Regions from separate parts of the Homo sapiens genome. Here region 2 is linked to region 1. Evidence: fine-mapped expression QTL. Tissue or cell type: subcutaneous fat. Region 1 holds a variant in brackets; the other region holds the start of a gene. All regions are shown on one strand. Distances are between the middles of the regions.

Region 1 (8,181 bases):
CGGTGGGGGGGTCTTCCTGGCTGCATTTGGTTCCTGTGGTTTCTGTAACGCAGTACCAAAAACTGAGTGGCTTAAAACATCAGAAAGGGATTCTCTCCCGGTTCTGGAGACCAGAAGTCTAGATCAAGGTGTTAGCAGGGTGGGTTCCTTCTGGAGGCTTTGAGGGAGAAACCATCCCAGGCCACTCTCCTGGCTTCTGCTGGTGGTTGGTGATCCTTGGTGTTCCTCGGCTTGTACCTGCATCACTCCAGTCTGTGCGTCTGTCTTCACATGGCCTTCTCTTCTCTGTGTGTCTGTGTCCAGATTTCCCTCTTCTTACAAGGACAGCGGTCATTGGATTTAGGACCCATCCTACTCCAGTATGACCTCATCTTACCTGATTACATCTGCAAAGACCCTATTTCCAAATAAGGTTACAGTCACAGGTTCCAGGGGACATGAATTTTGGGGGGACACTATTCAACCCAGTATGCTGTCCTTATCCTGAGCTGGAGTCACTGAACCCCCAGCCTGGGCCACCTCTTGGCCGTGATCCTGAAGGGTTGGGTCAGTTAGACGCCACTGGAAGCATGTTCTTTGAGGCCTCCAAGCTCTAGGGCAGCCAAGAAGACCACGAGCGCTGTTTCTCTTCTTGCTCAAAGGGTGGAGGTGGTGGAAGAGGACGGGCCTTCTGAGAAGAGCCAGGACCCACCTGCTCTGGCAAGATCCACTCCTGGCTCAAACAGGTAATCCATTGCGCTCATCTCTGCCTGGGGCTGGTGGCTGCCATACCTGCCACTCAGTCACTGAGGAACCTCAGTCAGGGCACCTCCATGCTGGGCTTCGAGATCAGTGTCCCCATGTGCCCAGTGACAAGACGGGACAAAGAAATCAGTAAGAGCCCATCTGGCTGGATGTCCCAGGGCTGAAAGGAGCAAAACAGTCCAGCCCCCCGGGAGAGAGCACCTGGCTCTGGTCTGATGAGTACGTATCTGTGTCACCTTAACCCTTGCACCACTGAGCCTGGTGGCAACTTGAACACCCCAAGAAAAAGTACCATCCTTGGGGTTTGAGAGGGCCAGCCACCATGGCAGTAGCATGCCATTGTCAGACTTGCTCCTTGCACTCCAATAAGTTAGCCACATTCAGCATGCCCAGGGAGGAGGCTCTGACATCTCCAGAGCCTCTCACAGCCACCTTCTTTGCCAGTGCGGATGGAGGCAGGACCAAAGCGTCTCGGGCAATTTGGATCGAGTGCCTGCCAAGTATGCCTAGCCCCGCTGGGAGCCAGGAGCTCAGGTGGGTGCCGAGAGCTGACTCTGGCTTGTGAGTGGGTGTGATGGCTTCCCGCCAGCCTGGCTGGCTGGTTCTGCCAGCTGGGGAGGGTCTGGCAGTGGGGTGATGGGGCAAGGACAGGCTGAGCACTGGTGATCTCACTCCAGGAAGGGCCGTGATTTGTCTTGATTTCTGATCCCTGAGAATCTGGGCAGATAATGGTGCTCTCTTGTCTGTGGACAACTAATACCTTCTTGTACTTTGTGCAGAATGGTGCTAAGTCCTGCAGGGAGAGCCACCACCTGCTGTTGCTGCTGTTTAAAGTGCCTGCCTGGATTGAGACCTTTGCTCAAATCTAGGTCTCCTAAGAGCTGCATCTCTGTAGCACCCTTGGAAGACCCCTGCATCCAGAAGGGGAGAGGGCCTGTCCCTACCGGTCACTTCCCAGGCCCCCAAGGGCTGTTCAGGCTCTCCTAATACCATAGCAATCCCCCAATTTGAGCTCCACAGCCATTTATAGACAGGTGACCACTGTCCTCAGGGTTACTTCCTCAGTCTGGGAGGGAGACAGAAATGCTGGCAGAGGGAGCCAGGAGCATGAGGCCAGCTCCCTCCATGGCCCCAGGCAGCAGACTGCCAGGGTGCTTCTCCTTTTCACTCTCTCCCTCTCTTGATCTTCTCTGGTTGTCTGACTCTCCCCATAAGAACTTTGGTCCATAGAAGATGTGGAAAGGAAGATTTGAGAATTCTTTACAAGGCAATATCTAGGGCAGAGCTCCCCAGTCTTTTTGGCACCAGGGATTGGTTTCGTGAAAGACACTTTTTCCACGGGACGGAGCAGGGGATGGTTTCAGGATGAAACTGTTCCACCTTAGATCATCAAGCACCGGATTCTCATAAGGAGCGCACAATCTAGATCTCTCACATGTGCAGTTCACAATACGGTTCGCGCTCTCATGAGAATCTGCTGATCTGACAGGAGGCGGAGCTAAGGCAGTAATGATCTCTAGCTTACCTCCTACTGTGCAGCCTGATTCCCAGCAGACCACAGACTGGTACTGATCCTCAGGCTGGGGTTGGGGACCCCTGATCTAGGGGACTTGGCAATTGAGGGATATGGGGGCAAAGGCTGCCACAACAAAGTATTGTACCACACCCTGGGGCGCTTAAACCACAGAAACGTATCATCTCCCACTTCTGGAGGCTAGAAGTGTGAGATCAAGGTGACGGCAAGGTTGGTTCCTCTTGAGTCTCTCTCCTTGGCTGGTAGACTCCATCTTCTCCCTGGGCCCTTATATGCTCATCCCTGTCTGTGTGTGCCTGCGTCCTAATCACTTCTGTTTTTTTGAGACAGAGTCTCACTCCGTCGCCCAGGCTGGAGTGCAGTGGCACAGTCACCACTCACTGCAGCCTCGACCTTCCAGGCTCAAGAGAGCCTCCAGCCTTAGCCTCCTGAGTAGCTGGGGCTACAGTCACAGGCCACCATACCCAGCTAGTTTTTTTTTTTTAAATTTTTGTAGAGACAGGGTTTCACCATGTTGCCCAGGCTGGTCTGGAACTCTAGGACTCAAATGATCCTCCTGCCTTAGCCTCCCAAAGTGCTGGGATTGCAGGCATGAGCCACCGCGCCCAGACCCTAATCACTTCTTATAAGGACATTGGTCCAACTGGATTAGGGCCCACCCTAACAACTGTATTTTAACTTAGTCACTTCTTTAAAGGCCCCATCTCCAAATGCAGTAACATTCTGAGGTCATGGGGGAGTTAAGACCTCAACATATGAATTTTGGGTGGCACAAGTCAGCCCATAACAGTATACAGTTCTCATTTCTCCTTATTTCTCTTTTAAAGAAAGGCAATAAATGGTTTCAGGTGCCTTTCTGTTTGTTCGTTTGTTTGTTTTGTTTGTTTTTGAGATGGAGTCTCGCTCTGTCGCCCAGGCTCTGTCGAGTACAGTGGTGTGATCTCGGCTCACCGCAGCCTCCGCCTCCCGGGTTCAAGCGATTCTTCTGCCTCAGCCTCCCGAGTAGCTGGGATTACAGGTGCACGCGACCACGCCCGGCTAATTTTTGTATTTTTAGTAGAGACGGGTTTCACCATATTGGCCAGGCTGGTCTCAAACTGCTGACCTTGTGATCTGCCCACCTCAGGCTCCCAAAGTGCTGGGATTACAGGCGTGAGCCACCGCGCTTGGCCTCAGGTGCCTTTTAGAAGATAATATAGGAGGCTGGGCATGGTGGCTCATGCCCGTAATCCCAGCACTTTGGGAGGCCAAGGCAGGAGGATGGCTTGAAGCCAGGAGTTTGAGACCAACCTAGGTAACATAGCAAGACCCCATCTCTACAAAAAAATAAAAAATAAAAATTAAAAATTAGTTGGGAGCATTGATGTACACCTGTAGTCCCAGCTACTTGGGAGGCTGAGGTG[G/A]GAGGACTGCCTGAGCCCAGGAGTTTGAGGCTGCAATGAGCTGTGACCGCACCCTTACACTCTAGCCTGGGTGACAGAGCAAGACCCTGTCTCTAAAACAAGAAAAAAAAGAGAGAAAGAATGGAGGAGAATTAGATTGTGCTGTATTATAGATTTAAAAGGCACTTTGACATTTATTCCACAAAATTCCTTTCGATGTTTAATCCCCATCATATGGTTGTCATTGCAAGGTGGCTTTTTAAGTTTGCTCAGGTTGCCATAACAAATAAAGGCTAGAGATTCAGGGTCCGGGGCAAGCTCCCAACAGGAGGCTCAGCTTGATGCTTCTGATAGTTCTTTCCTCCAATTCTGGTCACTCAATATTTGGAGCTCACCCAGGCAGCTTCCAGGAAAGCTGCTGGCTGATCCTGACCCTGGAGGGCCGTCTTCTCTGACCCTACCACGTTAGGTGCTGCACTGGACCAAGCAGCCACCATCAGTACTCCCAGGCCCAGCTCCTATCTGCCTGGTGTCTGAGAAGCCCAGCCCGTGAGGAACAATGACTCAATCAAACTCAGGGTCCTGCAGCACTTCAGAAAAGGCTGGTTTGTGGCAGAGTGGAAGAGGAGAATGTCACAGCCTTGTCCCCAGGCACAGACCTATCGAGGCTACCCTCTCCCCACCCCCTGCCCTGCCCTGTTTCCCTTAGCTACAGTGCAAAGGTCAGCTCCTCATAACTCTTGCCCCCCTTGCAACCTGAACCCAGTTTAGGGACCCTCTCTTGGAGAAACTGGTTCTACACATGCACCCCTTCTCGGCCCCCAGGCCTGGCTGCTTTACCCGAAGCACTGGTCAAGCTTGCCTCACCTGACCAGGGCATGGCCTCCTGGGTCCCGGTCCTAGGCTCTGCCCAGCATGCTGCCTGGCAGAGCGTCTGGGGAGCAGGGAGTAGGAGCACAGCTTCTGGCACAGGACAAAACCCTGGCTTTGCATCAGACTGACTGTGTGACCTTGAGCAAGTCTCTTCATCTCTCCATGCATCAGTTTCCCCGTGGATAAAATAGGGAGAGCAGTAATAGCTACTTCCCAAGGCTGTCCCAAATGCTAAATGAGATCGTGCACCTGAAGTACTTACCACAGTGCCTGGGTGCTGGTATCCTCGGGGGCTCCCAGTCATAGGCGTGCTGAGCTGCAGGGCCCTTATTCAAATACAGGAAGAGATCAATATCTCCACCTGCTGGCATTTGAGGGAAATGTGGCCAAAGGCAGTGAAAAGGAGGTATCCCCTCGCCCCACATCCCCGCCTCCTCGCTCTTTGGCAGAATGAGTCACACACTGTTTGGCACAGGCCACAGTTGGTCGCATTCCCACAGGTGGCTGTGATCAGTTTTGGGCTTCAGGCTTCAGCAGATGCCTGCCTCTCTTCCTTGGGTGCCTTCCAAGGGTGTGCAGCCTTCCAGCGTGGTCCTGGACTTCAGCTTGGACTGGAGCTGTCTGTGGTTGAGAGTCTGGGGAGATGGTGGGGTAGCGGGTTGTGGGGGAGGAGAGACCCTTGTATTAGTTTACTGGAGCTGCTGTAACAAGGTACCAGAAACTGAGTGGCTTAAAACCACACGCATTTATCCTCTCACAATTCTGGAGGCTGGAAGTCTGAGATCAAGGTGTCGGAAGGGCCATGCTCCCTCCAAAGGCTCTGGGGGAAAATCTGTTCCATACCTTTCTCTTACCTTTTGTTGCCTGCAATCCTTGGTGTTTCCTGGCTTGCGCCCGCCTCACTCCCATCTCGGCCTCTGTCTTCGCGCAGCCGTCTTCCCTCTGTGTCTGCCCACATTGCCCTAGTCTGACATCAGTCACTGGAGCAGGCTGGGGTGACACTTTGTTCCCATTTCCTCTGTGACAGAGCCAGAAACGCCAGTGAGAAAATATGTTGTGCTTGCCTGTGACATCCCTGTTCCCTGGCACCACCTGATTTAAATGAGGCAGCCAGGGGTTTTATACTGTCATCATAAATGACATCATCCTCAACAACGATGTCATCGTCGTTATCACGAGAGGAGATGGGGAGAAGTCAGAGCTGTCTGTGTGTCTAGGGCCCCTCCTGGCTTTCATGATGGGAGAGGCCTTGTCCTTGGTAGCCCTTCCATTTCCCTCTGGTCACTTTGAGCACTCCAGGCCCTGGCCAGGGTGGAAGTGGAGGGACAGAGATGAGCAGCCCGCTGACCCAGCCCTCCATGGCTCATTCCTTGCTTTCACCTTGGCCACTCCATCCCCTACCCCTCCTGGGACCCCTGAGTGGCCTCTTTAAAGTGCCAGTCTGAACCTATAAACCCCCCACCTCCACTTCAAGCCCATCCTGCATCTTCCCTTTGCCATACCAGATCTAGTCTGTACATTCAGGACCCCTGCCAGCCTCTACCTCCTCCTCCTCCCCCGATCTCCCTTCAGCTGGCCTGGGTCGGGCTATGCCTCCATGAAGCTTGTCCACTGCTCCCATGGCTAAACCTGTTCTGGGCCCTGCAGCACAGCAAGGTCAGTTTCCATGCCTCTCTGCCCCTGCCTGACCCTGCTGGGCCCAGAGCTTCACCAGGGCAGGCCTGGGGCTCAGGCTTGTCTGCACTTCCAGGGCCCAGGGACAAAGGCAGGAGTGACTGCAATGTGGCTTGGAATTAGGCTTTGCTCCATGGACCTAAGGAGGTCTGGTTTGGGGTGAAGGGTCCACCCCCAGAAAGCCTGGGAGCTCTATATTCTCTCTGGCCCTGGCCACACCATGGCCAAGCCTGCTGGGCGTCATGCCTTGCAGTACGGCCAGAGAATGCATCAGACTTGGAGGGATGTGTGTCCGGGGTGGCCTGTGGTCATCTGGGGGAGGGCTCTGAGCGTGGCTGGCAAGAGGAAAGCTCAAAGGGGCCCTTTGTCCTCATCCCCGAGTCTGCGACATCCCCTCCCACTGGTTTTCATTCCATATTTGGTCTGTGGGTTTTCTCAGTCTCTCGTACCCCTCAGTCCCCACCAGTCCATGAATGCAGAACTACCCCTGGCCTCACAAATGGCCACTTTGGATACCCTGGTGGGGTCACAGGCTGCGGTTGCCCCTGCAAATGGTTGGTAGAAGCACGGGTTGGGAGGTTTCATTTCTACCCAGAAGGGCCCTTGCTGTGCCTGAGGGAGGGCTGGGCTCAGGTCAGGGGTGGGAGACCGGGGAAGGGGCCTACAGGTCAGTGGCCCGAGCTCAGCTGCAGCACCAACAAGGCTCAAGGCCAAGGAGGAGATGAGAGCACATCAAAAGGGGGCAGTGGGTCTGGGCGGCCCACCGCACTCACCAGCCCAAGAAGGGGGAGACTTTTCTCACCTGCAACCCACTGGGTCTCTCCTTTGGCCCGCAGCTCAAGAGGTGAGGAAATTGTCCGCCTGCAGATCCTGACACCCAGGGCAGGACTCCGCCTGGTGGCCCCAGACGTGGAAGGCATGAGGTATGGGGGTCCTGCTGCTGTCCTGGCTCCCTGGACACCATTCTAGAGATGGAAGCAGCAGCCTCAGGTGGCAAATGATGAGGCCTAGGGCCGGCTCTGCCACTGTAGGGCCAACAGGTTGATGGGAGGCATGGTCGACCTGGGTTTTCTGCCCCATCTCATTCTTTCACTCAGAAAACCATTATGGAGCAAGCGCTTAGTCTGTGTAAGGGCACAGGCCCGACCCTGGGACACAGTAGTGAACAGGACCCCCTGGCTGGAATTGCCATCTGCCTGGTGGGGGAGGCAGACGCCGACATGAGCATGAATGAGGTCAGCCAGAGATGCTGTGTGCCAGGAGCCCCTGGGAAGTGACAGCTCAACCCTGCCAATTGCTGAAGATGGGACCAGTCAGCCGTGCTGGGGATGTTGGTGGGGGTGGGAGGAGGATTGGGTCTAAGGAGCCCGTGAAGGCCACTGAGGCCATTGCCCTGCCTGTGTGAGAGGGCCACTGGGAATAGAGTGGGGTCACTGGGTCAGAGTCCACAGCTCTCCATGCCACTAGGCTCTGTGCTGGGGAGGGGTGGGTCAAGGAGGCCACAACCAGCAGGGAGCACGAGGGGCTCAGCCTCTGCCCTGGGGTGGGGGTCAGACAGCCAGGTGACATGCAGGCAGGATTCGGGGGCTGGGGTGGAGGCTAGGAGAGATCCGAGCAGGGAGACTGGGCCCCTACCTTGTGAAGGCCAGGGACTGGGGAGAGAAGCGGGAGTGTACACTGAAGGTCATCCCTTAATCCCTGGGGTGGCAGGAACTTCGAGCAGAGGCCTCTCAACAGTGTGGTGGGTGGGAGTGCTTGGGGAGGGCTTCCTGGAGGAATTGACATCCAAGATGAGTCCTGAGCGATCTCTAGGTCCCTTTACCCTCCTCCTTGGCTCCTCCCACTTTAATTCTGCCCCCAAGGCACCAAGTCCTGTCCACTTTATTTTAGAGATGTTTCCATCCCTATTGCTCTGCCCCTGGCCCAGGCCTCCACTGCTACTCACCCAGTTGTCTGCGACCGTTTCCTACTGTC
Region 2 (8,158 bases), 27 kb before region 1:
CAGGCTGAGAACAGGGGGAGAGGAGCAGCCACTCCACATGCTGAGAGGCTGGACCAGCTCCTAGCAGGAGAGCTGGTTACAAACACAAGGGCCTGGCCTCACGGGTTCGGGGCTCAAAGGACCCATCCTACCTGCAATCACACCTGGGGACCCCTGCCTCCAGGGCATCCACCCTGCTTGGAGTCAGCAGAGTCACCCAGCAAGTGTAAACCGGTTGAAGAGCTTAAGAGGATGAGGTGGCAGGGCGGGCCCCGGGAAGGAGGGGATTAGGGATCAAGCAGGAGCCCAGCCCTCCCCGCACATGAACCTGAGCACCCCAGCTTCTCTCCAGCTGGGCAGGGGCTCCATCCAGAGCAGCTGGAACCCCAGGTTCTAAGCCCAGCTCTGCCTCAGACTAGCTGTGTAATCCTGGCAACATCTTGTCCCTCTGTGGGCCTCTGTTTTCCCATTTGTACAACTGAAGTGTTGAGGTTGCCTGCCTGTCTTCAGTCCCCTCTAGCTGAGGACACTGCCTGGGGGAGCTTTGCGGCCTGACAGCTTTCAGGGCCCAACCCCTCTTTCTCCCCCTCTAGCCTGGTAACTCTTTTTGTTTTCTGTATTTTTTGTAGAGACGGGGTCTCACCATATCGCTCAGGCTGGTCTTGAACTCCTGAGCTCAAGCGGTCTTCTCTCCTTGGCCTCCCAAAATGCTGGGATTACAGGCGTGAGCCACTGTGCCCACCTCCTAGCCTGGGAACTCTGGGGCTAGATCACCTTGCTTGAGTTCTCTTCCCAGCCCTGGAGATCAGAATGGGGCCTCCCCTGGAGCTGAGGAGTGCTGCTGGCCAGTTCTTTCCCAGCAGCCACCTGCCGTGCTACCCATCTCATTGCTTAGATGCAGCCTCCCAGAGACGCTGCCTCCACGGCCTGCTTGTGAGCTATGGCTTCTCCAGCACAGGGCTCACCACCTGCTACTCCCTGCCTCTACCTTTCAGCCTCTTGCCTGCCCAGACAGCCCAGCCTGGCCCCACCCTGAAGCCCCTACCTCTCACTTAGAGCCTTGCTGAGGGCCTGCTTGTTGGTGGGAAGAGACTGTCCAGTCCCCTGGAGGTGGCACTGCTGCCTAAGCTGGAGGGACTTCAGGAGAACTCTGCCAGAGCCAGGGGGTGGGAGCTGGCCTGTCTTGGAGCTGCGGATGGGTGGAAAAGTGCAAGAGATGTGAATAGGAAAGGATAGGGCCAAGCTCAGGCCAGGTAGGGACAGAGCCCAGCCTGGAGGCAGGCAGCAGCCACCACAGCCTTGGCCTAGAACTTGAGGGAGGTCTAAGGGAAGGTTCATGAAGGAGATAATGTTACTGCTGAGAGAAAGTGGAGGCCACCTGGTGTCCCTGGGGAGGAAATGTCATTCCAAACAAAGGGAGCATCTTGTGCAGCGTCCTGGTGGTATTTGAGCACTTGGTCTATCTGGGTACATGTCATTTGGGCATGTCTGGTGCTTGAAGAGGCTGAAGAAGCCAGCAGGTGCCTGAAGCCTGGCTGAGGTGACTAGAGGTGCCCTGGCAGGCGTGGAAGTGGAAGACTGTTGGGGCAATGGACAGGTGGGCAGGGCAGGGCAGGGCAGTTACCATTCAAGTCAAACCCGTTTGCAGGCAAGATCAGCTGCAGGGCCTGGCAGCCTGGCAGGGAGGGAGGGGTTCAGGGAAGGCTGATCTCTTTGGCTGGAGCAGTCGTGACAGATCGGGCCTGGGCAGAGACTGAGTCACCTGGGACATGGGAAGAGCTTGAGGCCCTGGGGCGGCCCAGCCTGGGGCAGTCCTCACTTGCTGGCCGTGCCGTTGGACACCACATTTGCTCATGCTCTCCAGCTGGGCCCCCCACCCCTGACTCAGGGCTCTTGAACAAGTTTGCCTTTTCCCTCTTCCTTGCCCTACATCTCACCCATCATGATGTCTTCTACCTTCTACCCTTTCAAACTAGGGGCTCTTGAAGAGGACTGGGACCCAGACAAAGAGTATGACACAGCCTAAGTCATACAGTAAACATGTTTAGGAGGTAAGATGCCAAGCCAAATCCATGGCCACCAGTAGCCACAGTGGAGGAGGGGAGGTGTTAGTTGCTGGCCACCAGACAGGGGCATACAATATTGGAAGCAGAAAAATGCTTGTTGGCAAGAGACGGACATGAACAGAAGTGACTTTATATACAACCCCCTAAGCACACACAGGGTCGCCTTCTCCCTATCTCATGAACCCCAAGAAGAAAAGGATGAGGACAGCTTCCACAGCCTCACTCACCCATCCATCACTTCCTTCTGCAAATTCTTCGGATGCCCTGTGCTGGTCTCCGTGACCCAGTGATGAATCAGAAGGGGCCCTGCCCTCCCAGAGCTCAGGATCTAGAACAATAGAGGGTGACAGCCACTATGCTGGATTGATGTCATCTGAGGGAACTAAGGGGTGCACAGAAGGAAGTGATCAGCTCGACTGGGTGGCAGGCAGGGGAGGCTTTCCGGACACTGGGTGGAGGCTTGAAGAATGACTAAGAGCTCACTAGCCCGACGGGGATGAAGAGCATTTTAGGGAGTCCGAGGAGCAGGAGCAAACACCCCAAGGTGAGCGCCATGTGATGTATTCAGAAGGCAATGGAAAAAGGCCAGTGTGGCTGTAATGTATTGAACAAAGGGAAGAGTGGCTGGACCTGCAGGGATAGGTCGTCTCAAGGAGTCTGGCTTTTACCCTGAGAGCAATGGGAAGCCATGGAGGAGTTGCAAGCAGGAGAGCACCTGATCATATTGACACACGTGAACTTTTAACCTGACCTCCGTGTAGAGACTGAGGGAAAGGAAGGCAAGACCAGAGGCAGGGGGACACCAGCAAGGAGGCTGGTCTTCGGGGCCAGGTCTGGACTAGGGTGGTGGCAGCAGGCACAGGGAGAAGTGGGTGGACTGGAGGGCCATGGAAACACCACATTGGCAGGCCTTGATGAAGGAGAAGCAGCTGGTCCATTCTTTTGAGCCTACCACCCTGGTAGGCCAACTCCTGGCCAAGTCCATGCCATTTCTTGGGCTGGCTTAATTGTCTCCCTGTTTGGGAGGCCGTGGGGTGAGGGGTCTTTCCTCCATGCTCTCTCCATCCTTAGCCCCAGCCCAGGGCCTTGCACACAATAAAGCACTCGGTGAGCACCAACGCGTGACACAGGTACATCAAACCGCATTGGCTCTGGGAGTCTGGCTGTATCTCGTCGCCCAGCCTGGGAGATAGCCCCGTTTGCTGTGCCTTGTGAGCCCCGGGTCCGTCCCAGGATGGCCTTCCACGATGAGCGGCTCCCTCACTCTTCTCCTCCTTTCCTGCCTGCAGGACTTCCTGGATGATCTCAGCCGCCAGCCCCCCGCCCCCCTCCCCGCCCCTGTCTGGGATCTCCATCTGTAAAATGGATCTAGGAACGGTAGTTCTCGACTGAATTAACCCGACAGCATCTGTGGAAGTCGTTGGCCCTGTGCCGGGGCCAGATCGCGCAACTAGGAGCGGGGGCCCTTCACGTGGCGGAGGCTTCCCGGCCTGGGGGCCACGGGCCCGGAGGAATTTGCCTGGAAGTTTTCCATCACGGCAGAGCCTTCTGGAGCTCGCCCCGTGCTCGACAAGGGGAGCCCCAGACTTGATTTCTCCAGCAGCCCCGCGGGGCGGGGCCGAGAAGGGGCGGGCGGGCGGAGGACGCTGGCGGGAGAATGTGCGGAATGTGCCAGGCGCCTCTACCTACCCCAGGAGGGGCAGAGGAAGGGGCCGGCCGAGGGGAGGGGCGAGGGGCGAGGCTCCGGGCGGCCGGAGAAAACCTGTTTGTTCTCCTGCGGGCGGAGCCCAGTCCGCGCCTCCTCGCCTCCCTGCGCGCTCCCCGCTGTGCACCGCGCCCCGCGCCCCGCGCCTGCCTCCCCGGCCCGGCCCGGCCCGGCCGGGCGCCGTCCACCCGAGGGAGCCCGCGCCCTGCGACTGCCCGACCCTCCACCCGCCCCACGAGCCGGGCACCGGTGCCAGGTAGGGCTGTCGAGTCGCCATTGGATGCGGCCCTGCTTGGAGGCAGTGGGGGGCACCCAGTCCGTGCCCAGCTGGGGACAAGTCAGGGCCTCAGTTTCCCCATCCATAACCCTTACCAGCTCCAAGCATCTCTCTTCGGGTTCCCCCCGGGAGTCAGTGGATTTCTGGTTTTCGCTGTGAGTGAAAAGACTGACAGGCAGAGGAGGCCAGCGTCCCCTACAGAGGCAAGTGTCCCCCTTGCCAGCCTGATCCCTCTGTCTTGCCCTTTAGGAAAGACACGGTTTAATTGTTAGTAAACGGCGAGGGGCCAGGATGCTCTGAGAGTTGACTGCAGGCCTTTAAGAATCAGGGAATCTCATATCCCTCCGTCCCCCTGTGCCCATTTTATAGATGAGGAAACTGAGACCCAGAGGCTGGCTCACCCAGAGGATCCCCTCAATCGCCCTGGGGCCTGTGAGGTGCATGTGCTGGGTACAGGGCAATCTTGGGGAGGGCCATGAGGATGGTGGCTGCTCACACTCAGACAGAAGGCGCCGAATCAGGTGTCACTGGGTGTTATCGACAGGATCGGCACTGCACCAGCTCTGTGGCTGGATTGTTTTGATGGGGGCAGAGGGAGCCAAGAGTCTGTCCTCTTTGGAAAGGCAGAGGGATACCTTGCCTTACAAAAAGGCCGAAAGCTCAGGTGCTCCTGCCTGATCTGCCACTTCTGAGCTGGGGACACCTGGGTACTCTGTCGGTTTAAGGGGGTGACACGTCAAGCTGCCTCCCACCCAGGGCTGCTGGGGACTCAGATAAAGTAGGTGGTGGGTGTGTCCCGGCTTTGGGACATCTGAGGCATGGTAGGAGTTGTGTTCTTGCTGAGCCGTCGGCACGAAGCCTTGGCATCATGGGAGGCCCCAAAGCTGTGAGCCCCGAGAGAGGGCCTCTCACACCCCATCCAGCAGTGCTTGAGGCTTCAGTACCTGGACTAAGTCCTGCCTTGGTCTCATGGCCCTTCAGACTTCTGGCTGTCGTACCTGGCTGGGGGCGGGAGGCAGGGGTGCACAGGTTGATAGGCCTGAACAGAGCTGCAGAGGTCCTGCCTTCCCAGGGCCTCCGCTCCTCATCTGAAAAACAAGGGGCAGCTCAGAGGCCAGCAAGTGGCCAAGACACAGATGCACAGATGAGGGGCCAGCCTTCTGGCAGGCCTTGGTGCCTCCGCTGTTCCCCTCATCGCTCCCAGGCCACTTCAGGATGGGAAGGAACAGATCCCTCTCACCTGCCCCTCCTTCCAGCAATTCCCAGCCCCTGGCTGGATGCTGTGCATTCAGCCGTGTGGAGCTGATGGAAGGCACTCAGTGCAGGGCCAGACACGCAGCAGGTGCTCAAGATCTGTTCATTTCCATCCTCTGGACACTCATGACTCAAGCAACAGAGGTGGCCCAGGACCACTTAGGATGTTGCAGCTCCGAGTAGCATGAAAACATTAGGGGTTCCTCAGTCCTGGAGCAGCGAGGCACCCCTGGCTGGGAAGATCAGGGAAGGCTTCCTGGAGGCGAAGGGCTTGGAAGCAGGAGGAGGAGCTCGGCAGCCACCAGGTCAAGGCCCGCACGTCCTTTGGAGCTGCTGGAGTCTAACCTCCCCGTTACTCCTGAAAGATCATAAACCACTTCTTGCTGAGCTCCTGCATATGGGGGCCCACAGAGAAATCAGCTCCATGCCTTGCCCTGAGGAGTGACAGAGAGGCCATCTGTCAGTAAGAAGTTGCCATCTGAATCCAAATGGCAGCAGTGCTTGTCCACCTCACTTCCTGCTCAGCTCAAGTCCAGACTCCAGAAAAAGCCTTTCCCACGTGAGGCCAGTGATGCCAGGGGCAGCCAGCGCCTCAGCTCAGCCTCCCTCAGCCTGACTTGTGCTCCTTGTCTTCCTGCCCAGTGTCCCCAAGGCCTCCTGAGATCTGGCAGGGCAGGGACTCTGGGTCCCTAGCACTGGGCCCAGGACCTGGCCACGATAGGCATCGGCACTTGTTCCCTGAACTGTCTTCAGTTGCATGCCAAGCAAACTCCCCCAATTCTGGCTCGGTGCATTCTGGAAGCCAGAAGCCTGCCTTCCTCCTTCCCTACTCAAGCTTCCACAGGTGACTGCCCCCTTTGGTGCGGGTTTTGCTTCAAGCCACAACTTATAAGGTGCCAGGTCACATGTAACACAAGCTTTCCTTCTGTTGCTGAGCCCTGAGGCTGCCCCCACTGCCAGTCCCTGGCGGCATGGGACAGGACCAGTGCCAGAGAGGAGAGCTGCTCTCCAGTGCGGCAACCCCTTGCAGTCCGGGCCTTTGGGCTCTCATGTTTAGGGTCAGTCCAGGGACTTTGCATTCGTTACCACTGTGCCCATAGTGAACCGGCTGATGCCAAGACAAGGGCAGTGCCATCAGGGGACCAGTCCCTGAGAGATGCTCAGGAGAGGTTGCCATCATTGCTTCCAAAGGCCGGGAAGAGGAGGAGGGGCTGAACTGTCCCACACCTGGTCAGGTGTGTGGCAGGTGAGGGTGGCACCTTCATAGCCTAGTGGTTAAGAGAATGGCTCAGAGGTCAGCCTGGGTTCAAACCCCAGCTCAGCCACCATCCAGTTGTGCAAAGTTCGGCCCTTCATGCAACCCCTTGAGGCCTCTGTTTTCTCACCAGTACTGAAGGGTGGCTAAAGCCAGGAGCACCTGCTGCACTGGGTGCCTGCAAGTGCTAGGTTCCTGGCACAGAGGTGCTCTGTCACGGAAGGTAGCTGAGCCAGGACTATGGTGCCCTCCTTCAGGGCTGTGGTGGCAAGGAGTGAAGTGGGACTAGGTGGAGAGAGAGATGCTGACTGGGATGTGGGCCCCTACCTGAGGAAAACAGTTTAGAAATTACTGCTGATGATGCAAACAGTATCTACCCACATTTAAAGTGACTCACTAAAGAACACTTAATTCTTAGGGTGATTTCTCATGCCTACTAAAGTCTGACTCGCTTTCTTTTTTGTTTTCACTTTTTTTTTTTTTTTTTGTTAGAGCTGGGGTCTCGCCTTGTCACCCAGGCTGGTGTACAGTGGCTAGTCACAGGCATGATCATAGCACACCGCAGCCTCCAACTCCTGGGCTCAAGCGATCCTCGTGCCTCAGCCTCCCGAGTAGCTGGCACTACAGGCGAGTGCCACCATGCCAGCACTGTTGTTACTTTTTATCTTTAATTTTTTTTTTTTTTACCTTGAATTGATTTAAAACTCATAGAAAAGTTGTACGAATCGTGCAGAGAACTCCTGAAGCCTTATCTGAATTCCCGCTATTAACATTTTGCCACATTTCTCATTAGCTTTCTTCACTTGTAGCCTTTGGATGGGTCAGAGGGTGGGCAGGGCTGTTGTCAGTTCATTTTTCCAAAGGGAAACTGAGGCACAGAGAGGGACTTGCTCAAGTGCCATTGATTAGAAACTGAGCCAGATTAACTTCTCTCAGGGACACATATTGATGCATTTGGCAGGTGTTTTCTTGATCACTTTCTGTGTTGGGCGCTGGGGCACAGAAATGACTGAGAACTGACAGCAAAGTGGGAGGGACAGGTCTGAGTGGAGAAGAGACTGGAAAAGGAAAAGACAAGAGGCCCTGTGGGTATCACTCTCAATGTCGGAGGTGGAATGCAGGAAGGAATCTGCAGCTTAAGCGTGTCTCCCAGGGAATTTGACTGCCGAAGGGTCCCAGAGGCCACTTTCAGAAACACGGTCTAGGCTTTTCCTGTTGGGAGTGTGCTCATTTCTCACCTCAAAAGGGAGCTAGGAACTGGGAGGGTGCCTGCCTGGAGCAGGGAGGTGGGTCCAGGCCAGCCAAGAGAGCAATTCCTCACCCACTCATTAACGCCCGCTGAGCCATCCCTCTTCCCGCAGAGCTGCCCTTGGGGCTGCTGCTGCTGAGATGGCGGCAGAGCTCTGAAGCCACGCCCTGGGTCAGAGAGGAGACATAGCCTCTGGGGCCAGTGGGCAAGCCCTAGGCTGCTGGTGGTTGCTGGCGGTGGTCCCTGGCCTTGGCCCCATCTGTAGGCCCAGCTCGGGCACCCAGTCCGGGCCCCTTGGTCTAGTCCCTGTGATCTTTGGCTCAGCACGCCACTTTGTGATGACTAGGTCAGTTTCCCAGAGAGCTTGATGTGG

Direction of the effects. Alleles are on the strand shown, and positions count from the first base shown. SD is a standard deviation of normalised expression in the study named.
In carriers of allele A in region 1, the expression in subcutaneous fat of the gene that starts at base 3,835 in region 2 tends to be higher than with G alone (small effect, 0.34 SD a copy in GTEx).

Evidence for each region. PIP is the estimated chance that this variant, and not a neighbour inherited with it, causes the effect.
Region 2: it holds the start of ZNF185, and the variant in region 1 is fine-mapped to the expression of ZNF185 in subcutaneous fat (GTEx, PIP 0.92).

Annotation. Positions count from the first base shown.
Region 1 is chrX:152,921,532-152,929,712 of GRCh38, forward strand. ZNF185 (zinc finger protein 185 with LIM domain) reads left to right here. Exons shown (of 25, transcript NM_001395254.1): 11 at 642-725; 12 at 1,189-1,278; 13 at 7,044-7,130. It overlaps LOC124905237 (a long non-coding RNA gene), which reads right to left and starts at 5,627. Exons shown (of 2, transcript XR_007068368.1): 1 at 5,388-5,627; 2 at 3,818-5,168. The variant G/A (reference allele first, on the strand shown) is at 3,682.
Region 2 is chrX:152,894,233-152,902,390 of GRCh38, forward strand. It overlaps ZNF185 (zinc finger protein 185 with LIM domain), which reads left to right and starts at 3,835. Exons shown (of 25, transcript NM_001395254.1): 1 at 3,835-4,006. RefSeq lists enhancers at 3,087-3,587, 7,456-7,978.